Regions from separate parts of the Homo sapiens genome. Here region 2 is linked to region 1. Evidence: fine-mapped expression QTL. A gene starts in region 1. The other region holds a variant in brackets. All regions are shown on one strand. Distances are from middle to middle.

What was found.
Region 2: its variant is fine-mapped to the expression of CD4 in whole blood (TOPMed, PIP above 0.99).

The regions. Positions count from the first base shown.
Region 1 is chr12:6,785,039-6,794,693 of GRCh38, forward strand. It overlaps CD4 (CD4 molecule), which reads left to right and starts at 4,490. Exons shown (of 10, transcript NM_000616.5): 1 at 4,490-4,624. RefSeq lists a silencer at 1,745-2,039 and enhancers at 3,974-4,531, 4,347-4,396, 7,512-7,561.
Region 2 is chr12:6,817,378-6,827,032 of GRCh38, forward strand. CD4 (CD4 molecule) reads left to right here. Exons shown (of 10, transcript NM_000616.5): 8 at 1,044-1,165; 9 at 1,470-1,537; 10 at 1,922-3,422. The coding sequence ends at 1,952. GPR162 (G protein-coupled receptor 162) reads left to right here and starts at 4,444. Exons shown (of 5, transcript NM_019858.2): 1 at 4,444-4,523; 2 at 6,091-7,388; 3 at 8,107-8,296; 4 at 8,819-8,976; 5 at 9,276-9,655. The coding sequence starts at 6,522. RefSeq lists enhancers at 1,483-1,983, 1,984-2,484, 3,455-4,427. The variant CT/C (reference allele first, on the strand shown) is at 5,483.

The DNA of each region.
Region 1 (9,655 bases):
GGTGGGCCCAAAGCTAGAGCCAGCCCTTGGAATGCTCTGTTTGCTCTACCCAGTGTCACGACAAGTTGAAAAAATTTGTTACCAATATTAAAATCAGGAGGTATTACATAAATGTCTGGTTTTCACCTTCTCTAGAAATTTTGGCAGAGCAGGCAACTCTAGGCTCACATGCCAGTATAGCCTCTACGGTCAACTCAGACAGCTATGCAGGGAATGGCTGCCCTTAACTAGCTGAGGCAAGTACTCTCTGGTTTCCCCCAGTCCCTACCCTTCCCTTTTGGTCACCACCAGTGTACCTTTCTCATTTGCACTACCTAGGGGGCTCCTGTAAGCATTTACATTTGTAGCCCTGCTCTCCTGCTCTTGTCCATACTTCTCTATTTATCCATTCAAAAATTATTTGGCCTGGTGCAGTGGCTCACGCCTATAATCCCAGCACTTTGGGAGGCAGAGGCAGGAGAATCACTTGAGGTCAGGAGTTCGAGACCAGCCTGGCCAACATGGTGAAACCCTGTCTGTACTAAAAATACAAAAATTAGCCAGGCTTGGTGGCGCACGCCTGTAATCCCAGATACTCGGGAGTCTGAGGCAGGAGATTCGCTTGAACCTGGGAGGCGGAGGTTGCAGTGAGCCGAGATCACACCACTGCACTCGAGCCTCGGCGACAGAGCAAGACTCTGTTTCCAAAAAAAAAAGAAAAGAAAAAAGAAAAAAAAATATTATTCAATAGCCAGGAGTTGCAGGGAGTTAGAATGAGGAGTCAGTATTTAATGGGTACAGAGTTTCATTTGGGGAAGATGAAAAATTTCTAGATGGTTACACAACCATGTGAGTGTACTCAGTCCCACAGAGCAGTACATTAAAAAATGCCTAAAATGGCCGGGTGTGGTGACTCACACCTGTAATCCCAACACTTTGGGAGGCCAAGGTGAGCAGATCACTTGAGGTCAGGAATTCGAGACCAGCCTGGCCAACATGGTGAAACCCCGTCTTTACTAAAAATACAAAAATTAGCCAGGCGTGGTGGCGGGCACCTGTAGTCCCAGCTACTCGGGAGGCTGAGGCTGGAGAATCGCTTGAACCCAGGAGGTGGAGGTTGCAGTGAACCTAGATTGTGCCACTGCACTCCAGCCTGGGGGACAGAGTAAGACTCCGTCTTGGAAAAAAAAAAAAAAAAAGCTTAAAATGGAAAATCTTATGTTGCGTGTATTTTACCGCAATAAATTTAATATCAATAAAATTTAATATATTAGGAAAATATTAAACAAGCATTAAGGGTCTTCCAGGGCCAAGGCATCTGTGAGGGTGCTGGGAACATAGTGCTAACTAAGACAGACACGGTCACCGCTCTGGCCTGTGAGCTAGACACTAAGCAGCAAATAACTTCATTGCAACTGGAAAATTGCTACGAAGGGAGAAGCACAGGGGACTGGGAGATCTTATCACAAGGAAAACTGATTTCAACTGAGGAACCTGAGTATCCTCTGAGACTCTGGGGAGGAAGTCCTGTGCAGGAGAATGGTAGAGCAACAAAATATAAACAGCCCCAATCTTGGCCCTGGAGGACGGCGTGCTGCTCCCTCTCTTCTGCACCACCCACCTCCACACTTCCTACATGTGAAAAATAACTTCAATCTTGTTGAAGCCTCTATTATTTTGGGTTTTCTTTTGCTTGTAGCAGAACCCAGTGCTTACCGATAGACAATTCTCCCAGTTGAAAGAAGGTTCTTTTGTGATAAGATCTCCCAGCACCTTGTGCTTTTTCCTTTGTAGCGCTTGTCGAATTGTAATGAAGTTGTTCGTTGTTTAGTGTCTATGTCATAAGCTGGAGTGGTGACCATATCTGTCTTCTTCAACATCACATCCCCAGCTACCTAGCAGAGTGCCTTGGGCTGGTACACGCTTAACTACGTACATGAATGAATGGAGCAGGGCTCAAAACATCAATGCCTACCAGAGCCTGCCAGGTAATGTAAATGAGAAAAGCAGACTGGCTGTGAACAATAGGGAGGGTGTTTGCTTTCTAGTCTGAAGGAAGAAGGCCTGAGGAGGATACATTTTCCCCACTTTGAGGAGCAACTCTGAGGTTGCACCTAATACTTTCACTTCTATCTATTAACCAAAATTGAGTCACTTGGACACATCCAGCTGTGAGGGAGGCTGGGAAGTATATTTTAAATCTGGGTAGCTAAGAGCTCAGCTAAAAATTGAGGGTTCTATTACCAAGAAGGAGAAAATAGACTTTGGGGACAGCTAAAGCGATAGCTGAGATCTGAAGAATGAATAAAAATTACCTAGATCAGTGGTTCTCAGAGTGAAGTGTGGCCTGCAGACCCTTGGGAGTCCCTGAGACCCTTTCAGGGGATCTTCAAGGTCAAGCTATTTTCATAAAAAAATACAGGATGTTATTTTCCTTTGTCACTATGTTGACATTGCAATAATGTTGCAAAAACAATCTGGATAAAACTGCTGCCTTAGCATAAATGAAGGCAGTGGTGCCAAACCATATGATAGTCATTGCATTCTTCACTGCCAGGTACTTACAGTAAAAAAAGAAAAAAAATTAATGCCACTTTTACTTAAGAATGCCCTTAATGAGGCCGGGCGCAGTGGCTCGTGCCTGTAATCCCAGCACTTTGGGAGGCCGAAGCGGGCAGATCAGGATCACCTGAGGTCAGGAGTTCAAGACCAGCCTGGCCAACGAGTGAAACCCTGTCTCTACAAAAATACAAAAATTAGCCAGGCATGTTGGCGGGTGCCTGTAATCCCAGCTACTCGGGAGGCTGAGGCAGGAGAATGGCTTGAATCCAGGAGGCGGAGGTTGTAGTAAGCCGAAATCATGCTGCTGCACTTCAGCCTGGATGACAAAGCAAGACTCTGTCTCAAAAAAAAAAAAAAAAAAAAGAGAGATCAAGACCATCCTGGGCAACATGGTGAAACCCCATCTCTACTAAAGATACAAAAATTAGCTGGGCATTGTGGCGCATGCCTGTAGCCCCAGCTACTTGGGAGGCTGAGGCAGGAGAATTGCTTGAACCCGGGAGGCAGAGGTTGCAGTGAGCCAAGATCACGCCACTGCACTCTAGCCTGGGCAACAGAGTGAGACTCCCTCTCAAAAAAAAAAAAAAAAAAAAATATATATATATATATATATAGAATGCCTTTAATGAAGCAGTAAATACTAATTTTATTAAATCTCAACCCTTGAGTACGGTGTGTCATGAAATGAGAAGTAGCACACAGTACTATATGCTACAGATGAAGTACAATGCTGTCAAATAGGGGTACTTGTGTTAATTGTTGGAGTCGCAAGCTGAACTAGAGTTTTCTTTTCTTTTCTTTTCTTTTCTTCTTTTCAAGACAGGTTCTCACTCTGTCACTCAGGCTAGAGTGCAGTGGTGCAATCACGGTTCACTGCAGCCTCAACTTCCTGGGCTCAAGCGATCCCCCCACCTCGGCCTCCTAAAATGCTGGGATTATAGGCATGAGCCACCACTCCCAGCCCCACTTTTTTCAGACTGGAAAACGCACACTCACATGTGCATCTTTAAATGATCACTTGGGCTGTGGTATGGAGAATGGCGACCAGTGAGGAGGCAGGAGCTGTTGTCCGAGCAAGGGATGATATTGGCATCTTGGATTGGCATGGTGGCAGTAGTGGTAGTGCAGAGTGACTTGGGTAGATTTTGGAGCCATTTAGAAGGTAACATCCACAGGAACTGGTAAATAAATACGTGGGAGAAGTTGGGTGAAGGGGGTGTCAAAGATTACACCCAATTTATTTTGCTTGGGCAAGTTGGTGGATGGTGAGCCCCTCACTGAGTGAGAAGCCTGGAGAAGCAGGTTTGGAGGGTGGTAGTATGCAGGTGGTATGCATAGTTGGGGATGTGTGTTGAGTTTGCTATGTCCGGTGAGCTTCCCAGTGGAGATGTCCAATGGGCAGACGGATACTCACATAGAGAGTTCATGGTAGATTCGGGCTAGAGGAAAGCACCTGAGGCCTGGCCAGAGACGCCTAGAGGAACAGAGCCTGGTTAACAGTCACTCCTGGTGTCTCAGATATTCTCTGCTCAGCCCACGCCCTCTCTTCCACACTGGGCCACCTATAAAGCCTCCACAGATACCCCTGGGGCACCCACTGGACACATGCCCTCAGGGCCCCAGAGCAAGGAGCTGTTTGTGGGCTTACCACTGCTGTTCCCATATGCCCCCAACTGCCTCCCACTTCTTTCCCCACAGCCTGGTCAGACATGGCGCTACCACTAATGGAATCTTTCTTGCCATCTTTTTCTTGCCGCTTAACAGTGGCAGTGACAGTTTGACTCCTGATTTAAGCCTGATTCTGCTTAACTTTTTCCCTTGACTTTGGCATTTTCACTTTGACATGTTCCCTGAGAGCCTGGGGGGTGGGGAACCCAGCTCCAGCTGGTGACGTTTGGGGCCGGCCCAGGCCTAGGGTGTGGAGGAGCCTTGCCATCGGGCTTCCTGTCTCTCTTCATTTAAGCACGACTCTGCAGAAGGAACAAAGCACCCTCCCCACTGGGCTCCTGGTTGCAGAGCTCCAAGTCCTCACACAGATACGCCTGTTTGAGAAGCAGCGGGCAAGAAAGACGCAAGCCCAGAGGTAAGGTGGTCAGACTCGGCTTCCTTCCCCGGAGCTGAGAGGGAGGGGAACGTGGGGCAGATGCACAGGAATGTGCTCTGCCCAGTTGTCTGCCCACAGCTCTGGCCACCTTCTCTTGCATTTCTCTTGGAACTGGTCATGAGCAGCGATTTCCCACTGGAACTGTGAGCTTCCAGAGGTCAGAGACTGTGCTAGACTCCTCTCTGCAGCCCCAGCGTGCACAGCTCAGTGTCCAGAGCAATGGGTGCTCCTTAGAGGAGTAGTGACCTAAATAGCAAGATCAGAGAGGGAGTGAAGACTGGAGACTATCCCAGGCTGGGAAAGGCGTGGAAGGCAACTAGTCGTGGGCAGTTGAGGGGAGAAGACTGGAAGAGGGGAAAAGAGGAGAAAAAGAGTGAAGAAGGGGAGGGAAAAAATTAGAAAGAATAAATAAATATAAGGTGGGAGGAAACCTATAAAAAAGAAATGATGAGGAAAAACATAAAAACAAGAAAAAGAGCAAAAGAAGTGGAATCTAGTCTAGAGAAAATTCTTGCAAAACCAATTTTCCTTAACGGGACAATCTCCAAAAATTGACACCAAATATCATACTTGCAGCATTTCATAAGTCGCATGATCTATGTAATAGTCTCTTTTAACTACCTTTTGTGTTTCTGTGTGTATTTTTAAATTTTTGTCTGCTTCTTTGCTCTTTTAAGATTTTTGAACAATGTCTAAAGGCACTTCTACTCTAGTTAGCTTTAAAATGATTCATGAAATAGGAAAGCTAAAATTCTCAGAAAGTGTTGAAACTGAGCTTTTGCGTATGAATTGCCCTAAAAGTTGCAGATACATATCTTTAGATAAATATGTCATTTAAGAAACGGATTCGAAAAGAATTGGTGGTAGGGGTCTCATGAGGCCGGGAGAGTTACAGAAGGATGTGCAGCCCCTCCTGGGCCTGGCAGGGTGTGAGGGAGAGTGAGGACTCACTGTCCCTCCTGAAGGGAAGCCCTGTGCCATCTCAGCCTTTCCGCCCTCAGACCTTTCCAGCCCCTGAGACCTCATGGCCTTGAAGCCGTGCTATCCCCAGTGTCCTCTGCTTTCCCCTCATAGGCTTCTTCTGGGAGAGAGGTTTCCTGGGGTACGTTCTGATCCCTCAAAACGGAAAGGCCCTGTTCTCAATAATTCAAAGATTTCACTCTGAGTGGGATAGTGCTTCCTGAATGCCCTGCTCTTGTGGTGGACATTTTTATCGGGGCAAGGCTAAGAGCAGGGCCTGATGGGGGAAGTCACTGCTACTTCACATTTTGACCAATAATTCCTTGTGCTGTATCAGATGCTGTAGGCTGATACAAAATGGCCGCCGCCCTCAAAGTCAGATGAAAGAGCCCCTGAGGACAGCGTTAGAGACACTCGGGAGATGATTTCCCTCTTTCAATGTGGGAGCACTTACATAGGAGAGGTCTATATCTAGATAAAAACTCCTCCCACCACTGGTGCTAGACAGAGCTTGGGGGCAGCCCTAGGCTCTGACCCTGGCCGTAATGGCGGGGTGGTGCTGAGGGCAATTGGCTAGACCAATTGTCTTGCACGTTTTATTTTTTATTATTATTTTTGAGACGGAGTCTCGCTCTCTTGCCCAGGCTGGAGTGCAATGACGTGATCTCCACTCACTGCAGCCTCCACCTCCTGGGTTCAAGCGATTCTCCTGCCTCAGCCTCTTGAGTAGCTGGGATTACAGGAGCCCAACACCACGCCCGGCTACTTTTTGTATTTTTAGTAGAGACCAGGTTTCACTATGTTGGACAGGCTGGCCTCAAACTCCTGGCCTCAAATGATCCGCCCGCCTTGGCCTCCCAAAGTGCTGGCATTACAGACGTGAGCCACCATACTGGGCCAGTCTTGCACATTTTAGACACTCAATAAATGTTTGTTGAATGAAATACCTGTGATGGGCCGGGCGTGGTGGCCCACACCAGTAATCCCAGCCCTTTGAGAGGCCGAGGCAGGAGGATGGCTTGAACCTGGGAGTTTGAGACCAGCCTGGGCAACATGGTGAAACCCCCATCTCTACAAACCCCACAAAAGTTAGCTGGGCATGGTAGTGTGTGCCTGTGGTTCCAGCTACTTGGGAAGCTGAGGTGGGAGGATTGCTTGAGCCTGGGAGACGGAGGCTGCAGTGAGGCCTGACTGTGCCACTGCACTCCAGCCTGGGCGAGAGTGAGGCCCTGTCTCAAAATAACTTTGATGAAGGTGGGGAATCAGAAGTAGGTGGGCAGGGGTCTGGGTTTGCAAGGCTCTGAGTTTGAGCTCTGTTCTGTACCTTTGAGGGGATGAGGGAAGGAGGGTGGGCACGGTTCCCCCGATGTGGGTGTCTGAGGCGAAGAAGAGGATGGCGGAGGTTGCAGCCACCAACCACAAGAGTTCCTTAGAGGGGTCACAGTCTCTAGGAAGTTTATAGGAAGCTAGTCAGCAGTAGAGAGGGTGAACGCGGTGGGGCACATCCCGCGGCTGGGCTTGAGTGGGCTGCTTGGGGGTTATGGGGAGAAGATAAAAGTGCCTGTGGGACCACAGACTCTCGCTGTGGTGGAGCTGGGCCCTCTTACCCTCCCAAGCCTCGCCCCTCATCCCATCCCTGGGGGCCAGGGGTGAGGGCGGCAGGAACCTCAAGGCTCTGAGAAAGTGCGTGGTGTGTGTTGCCATTTTGGTCTCTTCTCTTTCTCAGTCTCTCTTTGCCTCACTTTGGATCTATGCTCTGTGCATCTGTCTTGCTTCTCAGAATTTCTTCTTTTCCTCTTTTTTTGTACTACCCTGCGCTTTGTGTGTGATTGTGGATTGTGTGTGCATAGCTGTTGCTTTAACAAGCTGCTCCAGGTCTCTCTCTCCCACATCTTTCCCTCCCCTCCTCCCTTGAGGCTCTGTGCATTCTGGGGAACTCTGTCCATTTCCCTTTGTCCATGTGTCCCTCCCACCCTGCAGCCGGCTCCCTCACATCCACCCTGGGCTGCAGGCGTGCTCGGCAGGCTCCCCACAGATCAAAGCTTGTCCAGGGTCTGCATTGCTGCCAAAGGCCAGGAGGACTGTGTACAGACCGGAAGGAGCTAGAGCTTAGTGGCAGCCTGAGAGGGGAAGCTGAAAAAGGAGAAGAGGCAAGGGGCATTCCAGGGGAGCCCGGGAGAGCCAGCACGGCCGCCTGGTATATGAGGCAAAGAGGAAGACAGACACAGACACAGGGAGCTGCAGGCTGGGGGCATAAGCTGGGGGCTGGGAAGCATAGATACAGAAATGCACAGATGTGAGCTGAGAAGCAAGGAGGGAGAGAGAGAGACAGAAAGAGAGAGAGAGACGTGCCAGGGCTTGAGGGACCAGAGAGCCCTCCCAGCCTCTCTCGGAGTGCTGGTATACAGGATGCTACCGTACTAGGGTAAGACACCTCTGGGGACGCTGAGTATGGGAATCAAAGGCCAGATCTCTGGGGTGGCAGCGGAAGCCCAAAGCACCAAAGCAAGCATGCTGGAAACCCACAGCCTCCTCCACTTAGCAGAGCCTTGGGGTGAGATGAGGCAGAACAGGGAGCTGGAGGCAGGGAGGTGGCTGTCTGCACATACCTCAGGACCATGGAGCTGGGGGAGTCAAAACAGCCACCATATGGGGAAGGGTCAAGAATGCCTCTAGTCTTCCCCAGGCATCTTATCAGGGTAAGCTGAATTTGGACCCCAGAGAAGGGATATCGTTTATGGAGACTTCCCCTCTTTCATCCCCTGCTCACCAAGGACCCAGTCAGTCTGGGATGGGGGACAGTGGGAACCACTCTTTGGTATGAGGCTACTCCTATTCTACTCTTCTCACTGCAGCCTTCCCCTAGATGCCTCCCATCTGCATGCTAACCTGTAAACACTTCACCATCACTGGTGGCTAGTCTCCCTTCCTCCTTTTTCAGAAACCTCCTTCCTGACCTCTTTTCTTCCTACTTCCCCGGTTTAAACAAAATTGTATCTATCTATCATCTATCTATCTATCTATCTATCTATCTATCTATCTATCTATCTATCTATCTATCTTTTTTTTTTTTGAGACAAAATCTCACTCTGTCGCCCAGGCTGTAGTGCAGTGGCACTACAAGTAATCCCAAGTAGCTGAGATTACAGGCGCCCGCCACCATCCCCAGCTAATTTTTTTGTATTTTTAGTAGACACGGGGGTTTCATGATGTTGGCCAGGCTGGTCTCAAACTCCTGGCCTCAAGTGATCTGCCTGCCTCGGCCTCCCAAGGTGCTGGATTATAGGTATGAGCCACCACACACGACACCCGGCTTCTATCTATCTATATCTATCTATCTATCTATCTATCTATCTATCTATCACCTATCTATCTAATCTATCTATATCTGTCTATCTATCTTTATGTATCTATCTTATCTATTGATCTATCTATCTTTTTTTTTTTTTGAGACAGAGTCACTCTGTCACCCAGGCTGGAGTGCAGTGGCACGATCTCGGCTCACTGCAACCTCCGCCTCCCGGGTTCAAGCGATTCTCCTACCTCAGCCTCCTCAGTAGCTGGGACTACCCACCACCACTCCTGGCTAATTTTTGTATTTTCAGTAGAGATAGGGTTTCACTATGTTGGCCAGGCTGGTCTCCAACTCCTGACCTAAAGTGATCCACCCACCTTGGTTTCCCAAAGTGCTGGGATTACAGGCGTGAGCCACCGTGCCTGGACATATATCTATCTTTTTTTTTTTTGAGATGGAGTCTCGCTCTGTTGCCCAGGCTGGAGTGCAGTGGCGTGATTTCGGCTCACTGCAACCTCCGCCTCCCGGGTTCAAGTGATTCTCCTGCCTCAGCCTCCCAAGTAGCTGAGATTACAGACGTGCGTCACCATGCCCAGCTAATTTTTGTATTTTTAGTAGAGATGGGATTTCACTATGTTGGCCAGGCTGGTCTCGTACTCCCGACCTCAGGTGATCCACTTGCCTTGGCCTCCCAAAGTGCTGGAATTACAGGTGTGAGCCACTGCATCCGGCCTTATATATCTATCTTGTCTGTC
Region 2 (9,655 bases), 32 kb after region 1:
TCCTGTGGTTGGCAGAGACCACCCAGAGTCCCGGCCTCCCAATGCCTGAGTTGGGGGGTTATGGGTATGGTGTCCTCTGTGGTCCCAGGGTGCTTTGGAGGCCCCAAAAGGAGGCATAGAAGTGATGAAGTGAGGTGGGTTGTGGTCCTGGGCTCTAGGCTGCCAGTTGTAATTCTACAAGTTCCCACTCCCTCAGGTCTACAGCCTAGGGATGGGGTCCACCTGACCGAGAGCCCCCCTCCCTGGCTCCTGGCTTTTCTCCAAATCCAGACGCACTTACACACACACTCACACACATACACTCTCACACACATGCACACACTCCCATACACTCTCACACACGCACACACATCACTCACACACTCGCACACACTCATACACACACTACACACACATCCACACTCACACCCACACTCTCACCCCATGTACTCACACCCATGCACTCACACACTGTCACACACTCATACACACACATGTACTCACACATGCATGCACACACACACTTACACATTCACGCACATACTCTCACCCACACACTGTCGTACACGTACACTCACACACTTATACACTCACATCCGCACACGCATTATTCACACATGTGCACACACGCGCGCGCACATGCATGCAGTCACGCACACACATTCATACACGCACACAGGCACACATTCACACACATGCACACACGCACACACATTCACACATGGACTCACACGCGCACACGCGCGCACACACACACATTCACACCATTCACACACGCACACACATGCACACACTCACACATGCACACACACATGCACTCACACACACAGCCCAGGAGCCAGACCACAGCTTCTCTCTCTCCAGAGTGCCCTGGATATGGATATGCCCAAACATAAAACCGATTCCCCAGCACTGGCGGCCTTTGAGAGCCCCCAGGCACCCCTCCCCTCTCCCCCAACCCCAGGGTCAAACCAGAGACTGGCCAGGAGGGATTGCAGGGCAGTCCTCAGTCCCCTGGCCCGTGGAGGAGGGCGGTGCATTGAGCACATTTCTCTCCCTTGCAGTTCTGCCCACATGGTCCACCCCGGTGCAGCCAATGGCCCTGATTGTGCTGGGGGGCGTCGCCGGCCTCCTGCTTTTCATTGGGCTAGGCATCTTCTTCTGTGTCAGGTGCCGGCACCGAAGGGTGAGTAACCCCACACCTGGTCCCCACAAGGCCCTCAAACCCCTGAGTCCTCTACCAGGAGATCCTGTATATGGGAACTGATTTTGGCCCAGCTCCCTCTGCCCACTCGTAAGTTCCCTTGCTGCCCTGTCCCAGATCCCACTCAAGGGAGAGACAGGAAGGAGCAGAGAGTTAATTCCAGGATAGATGGCCTGGGCCATGTAACTGCTTCTCCTGTCGCAGCTTCCCCCACTCCCCCCACCAAGGGGCACCTCCCTTCTGGAGGCCTGGGACCCTCGTGACTCCCTTTCTTGTCCCTGGACAGCGCCAAGCAGAGCGGATGTCTCAGATCAAGAGACTCCTCAGTGAGAAGAAGACCTGCCAGTGTCCTCAGTAAGGATCTGGGAGGAGGGGTTGAGAGAGGGGAAAGGGGGAGGGGGAGGGAGTTAGAGAGGAGGGGGAGGAAGGGGAGCAAAGGGGGGCAGGAAGGGAGGATGGAGAGGAGGAAGGAGTTGAGGAGGAAGAGCTGGGAGGGGTGGAGGTGAGGAGATGGGGGCTAAAGGGGTGTGGTGGAGAGGATAGAGGGGTGGGAAAAGATGGCCAGGAGCTAGAAGGAGGCAGAAGTGGGAGGATGGAGCTGAAGGAGCAGCAGGCCAGGAAAGGCCCTGCTGGAAAGCCACTGGAGCTGTGCTGCGCTGGAAAGGCCATTGGAGGTGCTAGAACGCAAAGGGGTTGCAGTGGGGACAGACCTGCTCCCCTTCTTCTTTGTTCCTGCAGCCGGTTTCAGAAGACATGTAGCCCCATTTGAGGCACGAGGCCAGGCAGATCCCACTTGCAGCCTCCCCAGGTGTCTGCCCCGCGTTTCCTGCCTGCGGACCAGATGAATGTAGCAGATCCCCAGCCTCTGGCCTCCTGTTCGCCTCCTCTACAATTTGCCATTGTTTCTCCTGGGTTAGGCCCCGGCTTCACTGGTTGAGTGTTGCTCTCTAGTTTCCAGAGGCTTAATCACACCGTCCTCCACGCCATTTCCTTTTCCTTCAAGCCTAGCCCTTCTCTCATTATTTCTCTCTGACCCTCTCCCCACTGCTCATTTGGATCCCAGGGGAGTGTTCAGGGCCAGCCCTGGCTGGCATGGAGGGTGAGGCTGGGTGTCTGGAAGCATGGAGCATGGGACTGTTCTTTTACAAGACAGGACCCTGGGACCACAGAGGGCAGGAACTTGCACAAAATCACACAGCCAAGCCAGTCAAGGATGGATGCAGATCCAGAGGTTTCTGGCAGCCAGTACCTCCTGCCCCATGCTGCCCGCTTCTCACCCTATGTGGGTGGGACCACAGACTCACATCCTGACCTTGCACAAACAGCCCCTCTGGACACAGCCCCATGTACACGGCCTCAAGGGATGTCTCACATCCTCTGTCTATTTGAGACTTAGAAAAATCCTACAAGGCTGGCAGTGACAGAACTAAGATGATCATCTCCAGTTTATAGACCAGAACCAGAGCTCAGAGAGGCTAGATGATTGATTACCAAGTGCCGGACTAGCAAGTGCTGGAGTCGGGACTAACCCAGGTCCCTTGTCCCAAGTTCCACTGCTGCCTCTTGAATGCAGGGACAAATGCCACACGGCTCTCACCAGTGGCTAGTGGTGGGTACTCAATGTGTACTTTTGGGTTCACAGAAGCACAGCACCCATGGGAAGGGTCCATCTCAGAGAATTTACGAGCAGGGATGAAGGCCTCCCTGTCTAAAATCCCTCCTTCATCCCCCGCTGGTGGCAGAATCTGTTACCAGAGGACAAAGCCTTTGGCTCTTCTAATCAGAGCGCAAGCTGGGAGCACAGGCACTGCAGGAGAGAATGCCCAGTGACCAGTCACTGACCCTGTGCAGAACCTCCTGGAAGCGAGCTTTGCTGGGAGAGGGGGTAGCTAGCCTGAGAGGGAACCCTCTAAGGGACCTCAAAGGTGATTGTGCCAGGCTCTGCGCCTGCCCCACACCCTCCCTTACCCTCCTCCAGACCATTCAGGACACAGGGAAATCAGGGTTACAAATCTTCTTGATCCACTTCTCTCAGGATCCCCTCTCTTCCTACCCTTCCTCACCACTTCCCTCAGTCCCAACTCCTTTTCCCTATTTCCTTCTCCTCCTGTCTTTAAAGCCTGCCTCTTCCAGGAAGACCCCCCTATTGCTGCTGGGGCTCCCCATTTGCTTACTTTGCATTTGTGCCCACTCTCCACCCCTGCTCCCCTGAGCTGAAATAAAAATACAATAAACTTACTATAAAGATGCTCTTCGTGTGTGTGTGTGTGTGTGTGTGTGTGTGTGTGTGTGTGTGAGAGAGAGAGAGAGAGAGAGACCCCTTCTCTGGGGACCAGGAATCTTCTGGTCTTTGGGGTCGGACCCAGAGGAGAGGTTGCTGGGCGTGCCCCAGGAAGGAGATGAAGTTTCCCTGGAGAGGGAAAAATTCTGTGGAGGCTGGCTACCCACCTCCACAACCCACAGGGCTCTGTGTGGGCCTGTGTGTGTGTGAGGCTGAGACTCTGTAATTACATGTGTGTGATATACCGTGGGGGAGAGACTCAGGGTTGTGTGAGCTCTCCTGGTGTATGTGTGTGGCAGAGAAAAAGGACTATGAGAAACTGTAACATGTGTGTGCAAATTGTATCCCCAACATATGTGTTTGTGTTCCAGGAGGAGGAGGCAGAGTGTGTGTGTCTGTGTGCATGCATGCGCCCACATCCTTTTAGCTTGTGCACAACCACCCCCAACTCCACAAGCAGCCCCAGTGTGCACCACAAGCCCCCTCACTCCCAAACCCAAGGCCCAGCCCTCACACAGATACACACAGTGACACACGCTTCCTCCTCCCCGAACAGCTAGCTCCTCAGTCCCCAACAACACCAGCTGCCTCTTGGAGCTTGTGTTCGTGTTGAAAACGGGAAGGGGTGGGGGCAGGACATGAACCATTTCACCAATGAAGCCGGTTCCCAGCCATCCTCCTCACCGCCCTCCCTCTCAGCGCCTTCCTTGCCCCTCCTCCCCGAGTCACCACCGTCCAGTTCCCCACCCTGCACTCGTTTCCCGCCCCCCCCCGCCCCCCACAAAGCTGTCCTGCCTTCCCTCTGGCCTGGGCTCACTGGCAGGACGACCCCGGGAGAGAGGGTCCTGGAGAGTGAGAGGGGCAGAGACCGAGTGAGCCGTGGGCTGAGCCTGGGAGGCCGGGACTGAGGGGGAGGAGGGAGGCCCGGGGGAAGGGAGGGAGGGAGAGAGGGAAGGAGGGAGGAGGGCGGGCGAGCTGGAGCCGGCAGGCAGCGGGAGCCCGAGAGAGCCGCGTCGGGAGTGCGGTCTCCATGGCAGTGCTGGGCGCAGCCGGAGAGAGGTAAGACGACCCCTGCCTGCCCCGTCCCCTGTGTTGCCTCCCTTTCCCCCTCAAGCTGCCTCCTCTCCCCTAGGCCGGCCCCTCCTCCCCAGCCACCTGCTGTTTCTGCCCTGGAGAACCTGGAGGGGGACAGGAGGGAGGAGCCGCCTGACCTTACCCCTTCACCCCAAAGGGCGAGGGACCCCGTCGGCCAGGGAACCTCCCAGATCCCCCTTCCCACCTTCCTCTGATCTCTCCCTGTCCTTCACCTCCCTCTCTCTGTCCTTCACATCTTTCCTGCCTCCTTCCCTCTCTGACTCCCTATCTCTTTCATCCTGAGCCCACCAGCTGGGCCTGGGTGGAGGTGGGTGGGAAGGGGTCCAGGGCTGTAGGAGAGGACACTGGGGGCTGCTCTTGGCCAAGTCCCTCCACCTCCCTCTGGCTGGCCATTGCCATGGCAACTAGGGTGTACTGGGCTCCGGAGGGAAGCCAAGGGTGGGGGTGGACCAGGACCTCTTGGGGAAAGCAAGGGTCTGAGCTGCTTCCATGGGAAACAGACCCTTTCACTGCTGTGCCCCATTTTTACCCCACTTACCCTAAAGCCATTATGTGCTTCCTTACAGCCCCACTCTGTTCAGGGTTTCACCCGATTCCCTTACCCCCCTTCCCAGGGCTCACTGAAGCTCAGCATCACGCACTAAAACTGGGACCATCCTTCCTCCCATGAGAGGGAAACTGAGGCTCTGGGCCAGGGAGGAAGAGTCAAGGTCTCCCCACGGGGAGTCAGCACCTTATTGAACATTTGGCTTTTCTTCTCAGCCTCCTATTCCCTGCTCCCTCCCTCCCTCCCTCCTCCAGTCCCTCCTCCCTCCAAAGCCTCCTCTCCAGGGGGTTTGAGCTTTTCCTGCTATTTTCAGATACTACCACTTTGCCCCCTCTTTCTCTTCTGCTCAAACTCTCCTCCTTCTCCCTAGTTCCCC[CT/C]CTTTCCATTTCTGGATGCTTCTGATGTCAGCGGTTTCCCCGCCTTCAGGTTCCCTAGCACCCCCTTCGGTCCCAGACTCCTTTCTCCCATTTTCCCAGATATGGGTAGCTGGAGGGTGATCACCCAGGTTTGGGGAAGTAGGGGCTAAGCACCAAGACCCCTGCATCCAGGAGACCGGCAGGTAGGGGAGGAAGGCTGTGATGCCATATCCCAGTTCACTGTGAACCCTCAAGAGGAAACCAGTCTTGTGTCTCCCATCAGTAGTTCTGAAGAGACATTTAGGGACTTGAAGATAGGGGTGGAGTAGTGCTGAGCAGGGGATGTTCTAAGAAGGAACCTGGGAGTTCCAGCGGGAGGAGGAAGGGCTAAAGGAGACAGGGAGGTGGGAATACCTTCTTCCCTAGAGGTCTGGAAGAGTGCGGCTCTCATCTGTGTGGGGTGTTTAGCTGTCAGAGTTAAGGCAAAGGAATGTTCTGAATGACCCTCAGGGCCTTAGTAATCAGTCATGCCTATAGTTTCAAGAAAGGGGGCACAGGAGGCTGATTGGAGACCAGCCCAGGCCCTACCTTTGCCCTCTCCCTCCCACATCTCATCTTTCCCTTGCAGCCTGTCCAGGGGGCTGAGCCCCACCCCCAAATCCCTGGGGCATCCAGAAGATTCCTGACTGGTCAAGAACCAGAGGCAAAAGAGACCTGGAAGTCCCAGCATGGGGACCAGAACCCCCCAGCCAGCCTCATAGTTGGGAAAGTAGCCAGCTTGCCTGCCCCATCAATTGCAGGGATGCTTAAGGAAGGCCCCGCCCAGTATGAAAGCTGAGGATTGCCTCTGCTGACCCTCAGTCTCCTCCCCTGCCCTCTACATCTGCCCTCAGCTGGGTCCATCATGCAATGCTGAGCACTGGGGTGAGCCTGGGGGCAGCCTGCCTGCTGACAGGGCGAGGATTGTGGGGATCATGGGAGTGTTTGTGAGTGGGGCTCCTGGGTGAGACCTAGCCCCCACCCCCACAGAGCTCAAGGGGGTGGGGGGCTGAGGATAGGATGGCTCGGGGCGGGGCGGGGGCAGAGGAGGCCTCCCTGCGCTCCAACGCATTGTCCTGGCTGGCCTGTGGGCTCCTGGCGCTGCTGGCCAATGCCTGGATCATCCTCAGCATCTCGGCCAAGCAGCAGAAGCACAAGCCACTGGAGCTGCTGCTCTGCTTCCTAGCGGGCACACACATACTCATGGCAGCTGTGCCCCTCACCACCTTTGCCGTGGTGCAGCTGCGTCGTCAGGCTTCCTCCGACTATGACTGGAACGAGAGTATCTGCAAGGTCTTCGTGTCCACCTACTACACCCTGGCGCTGGCCACCTGCTTCACGGTCGCCTCCCTCTCCTACCATCGCATGTGGATGGTGCGCTGGCCCGTCAACTACCGCCTCAGCAACGCCAAGAAGCAGGCACTGCATGCCGTCATGGGCATCTGGATGGTCAGCTTCATCCTCTCCACACTGCCCTCCATTGGCTGGCACAACAACGGCGAGCGCTACTATGCCCGCGGCTGCCAGTTCATAGTCTCCAAGATCGGCCTCGGCTTTGGCGTTTGCTTCAGCCTCTTGCTACTTGGGGGAATTGTCATGGGTCTGGTCTGTGTGGCCATCACCTTCTACCAGACACTGTGGGCCCGGCCCCGGAGGGCTCGGCAGGCCCGGAGAGTGGGGGGTGGTGGGGGGACCAAAGCGGGTGGGCCAGGGGCCTTGGGTACCCGGCCAGCTTTTGAGGTACCAGCCATTGTGGTGGAGGATGCCCGAGGGAAGCGGCGGTCCTCGCTGGATGGCTCGGAGTCTGCCAAGACATCCCTGCAGGTCACCAACTTGGTCAGCGCCATCGTCTTTCTCTATGACTCACTCACAGGGGTGCCCATCTTGGTGAGATCGGGGTCCTCCCCACCTGTTCTCCCCAATATCCAGGCCCCAGCATCATCACCTGACCTCCAACTTCATCAGCCATACAGCAGCTCCGTCATCTCTCCTCCAGTTCCATCATCCATCTTCCTCTCCTCTGTCCATCCCCCACTCCATTTGTGGCCCCCATCTTGATCATCTGTCTTTTAGTTCCCACTACCCTGTTTACCCCAGCTCCAGCATCTGCTTCAGTTCCCACTCCTCAGCTCCATCACCGTCCTTCAGTTCCACGACCTGTCCTCCAGCTCCGTCATCCATCCTGCAGCTCCACGGTTCAGCCGCAGACCTCTCATCCAGCCGCTGGGCTCCACTCTCCATTCCCTCCTTCCCTCGGGCTGCCACATGGTCTCTGAGCACTCTTGGCTGGAAATCCCACAGGGCTCACCCCACCACCCCATCTAGTCACTGTTCCTGGGTTCCTGTCTGTCTCTACGGTTCCTGGTCCACCTCTGTTCCTCTCCCTCCTGACCGCAGGGCTTTGTCTCCAGCACTCTCCCCGACCTTCCTCTGAGTCAGTCCCTTCCCTCTGTTCACTCCATCTCCACCTCCGGCTTCGCCTCTGTTGGAGCACAGGGATCAGGCATTACTTCTGACGTCTTGCCCACCAGCTGCACTAGGATATGGGGTTCAGGTGGGCTCCTCAGCTCTGGCCCTGACCCAGCCCGCTCCCACCCTTCCCCAGGTGGTGAGCTTCTTCTCCCTCAAGTCGGACTCGGCGCCCCCCTGGATGGTGCTGGCTGTGCTGTGGTGCTCCATGGCACAGACGCTGCTGCTGCCCTCCTTCATCTGGTCCTGCGAGCGCTACCGCGCCGACGTGCGCACAGTGTGGGAGCAATGCGTGGCCATCATGTCTGAGGAGGATGGAGATGACGGTCAGAGGAGGGGCTGGGCTTTGGCTTTCCTGGACATCTGTCTATTCCCTTTTCTGCCGCTCCTTCTCAGCCAGAGGATGGGCTGCCCTGGAGTGCCCCCTACTGGACAGAATCTGCACCACCCTGGGCTCCCCTTTCCCTAAGCAGGCACCCTGCTGTCCACTCACTGCTTCCCGCAGCACTCAGGGCTCCCTTCACTGGGCCTAGGCTCCCCTCCAGAAACCCACACTGCCCAGCTCTGGCACTATGGGGAACCTGAGCTTCCCGAGAGAGGCCCCCCAGCTATAGGGACGGCTCTTGGGGGAGTGCAGGCAATTGTTTCAATAACTTCATCTATATGTATGAAGCACTCCACTCAGGATTTAGCACTGAACGCAGCAAATGCTAGCCACTCTCACTGTCCTCTTGGAACATACATGCTAATGGGAACTAAAGGGGTCTCTGGGAGCTTATAAAGGCAGTGGTGGGAGGCCGCGGTAGGCATTCCCTACCTGTAACCACTCTGCCCATTTTCTCTCCTAGATGGGGGCTGTGACGACTATGCAGAGGGCCGAGTTTGCAAAGTTCGCTTTGATGCTAACGGAGCCACAGGACCAGGGAGCCGGGACCCCGCCCAGGTGAAGCTGCTGCCTGGAAGGCACATGCTCTTCCCTCCTCTTGAGAGAGTCCACTACTTACAGGTATGGAACTGGGGGATACATCTCCTACCCTTGGTGCCGCTCATCACTTTTCTCCAGTGTCTGTTAGGCACCCCAATCCCCTCTTCCCTAGCCCTGGCTTTCAGGGCACCATAGAGCTGGGTGAAAGAAAGCTATAGCAAGAGAGGCATCCCTTCAGACCTCGTGGGGCCAGGTTTGCCCACCGGAGCAAACGTTTTGAAGGTTAAGAAGGTGGCACCATCTTCCGGAGTCCCCACTTGGTTCCTGCCTCTGCCTCTGTCCCTGCAGCACCTTCAGGTCTTACCCGCTCCTCTTCCCAGGTCCCCCTATCCCGGCGTCTGTCCCATGATGAGACAAACATCTTCTCTACCCCTCGGGAACCAGGCTCCTTCCTGCACAAGTGGTCATCCTCTGATGACATCCGGGTCCTCCCAGCCCAGAGCCGGGCCCTCGGGGGTCCTCCTGAGTACCTGGGACAAAGACACAGGTTGGAGGACGAGGAGGACGAGGAAGAGGCTGAAGGTGGGGGGCTGGCCAGCCTTCGCCAATTCTTGGAGAGTGGGGTTCTGGGGTCAGGTGGGGGACCCCCACGGGGTCCTGGCTTCTTCCGGGAGGAGATCACCACCTTCATCGATGAGACACCTCTGCCTTCTCCGACTGCCTCACCAGGGCACTCTCCTCGTCGGCCCCGGCCACTGGG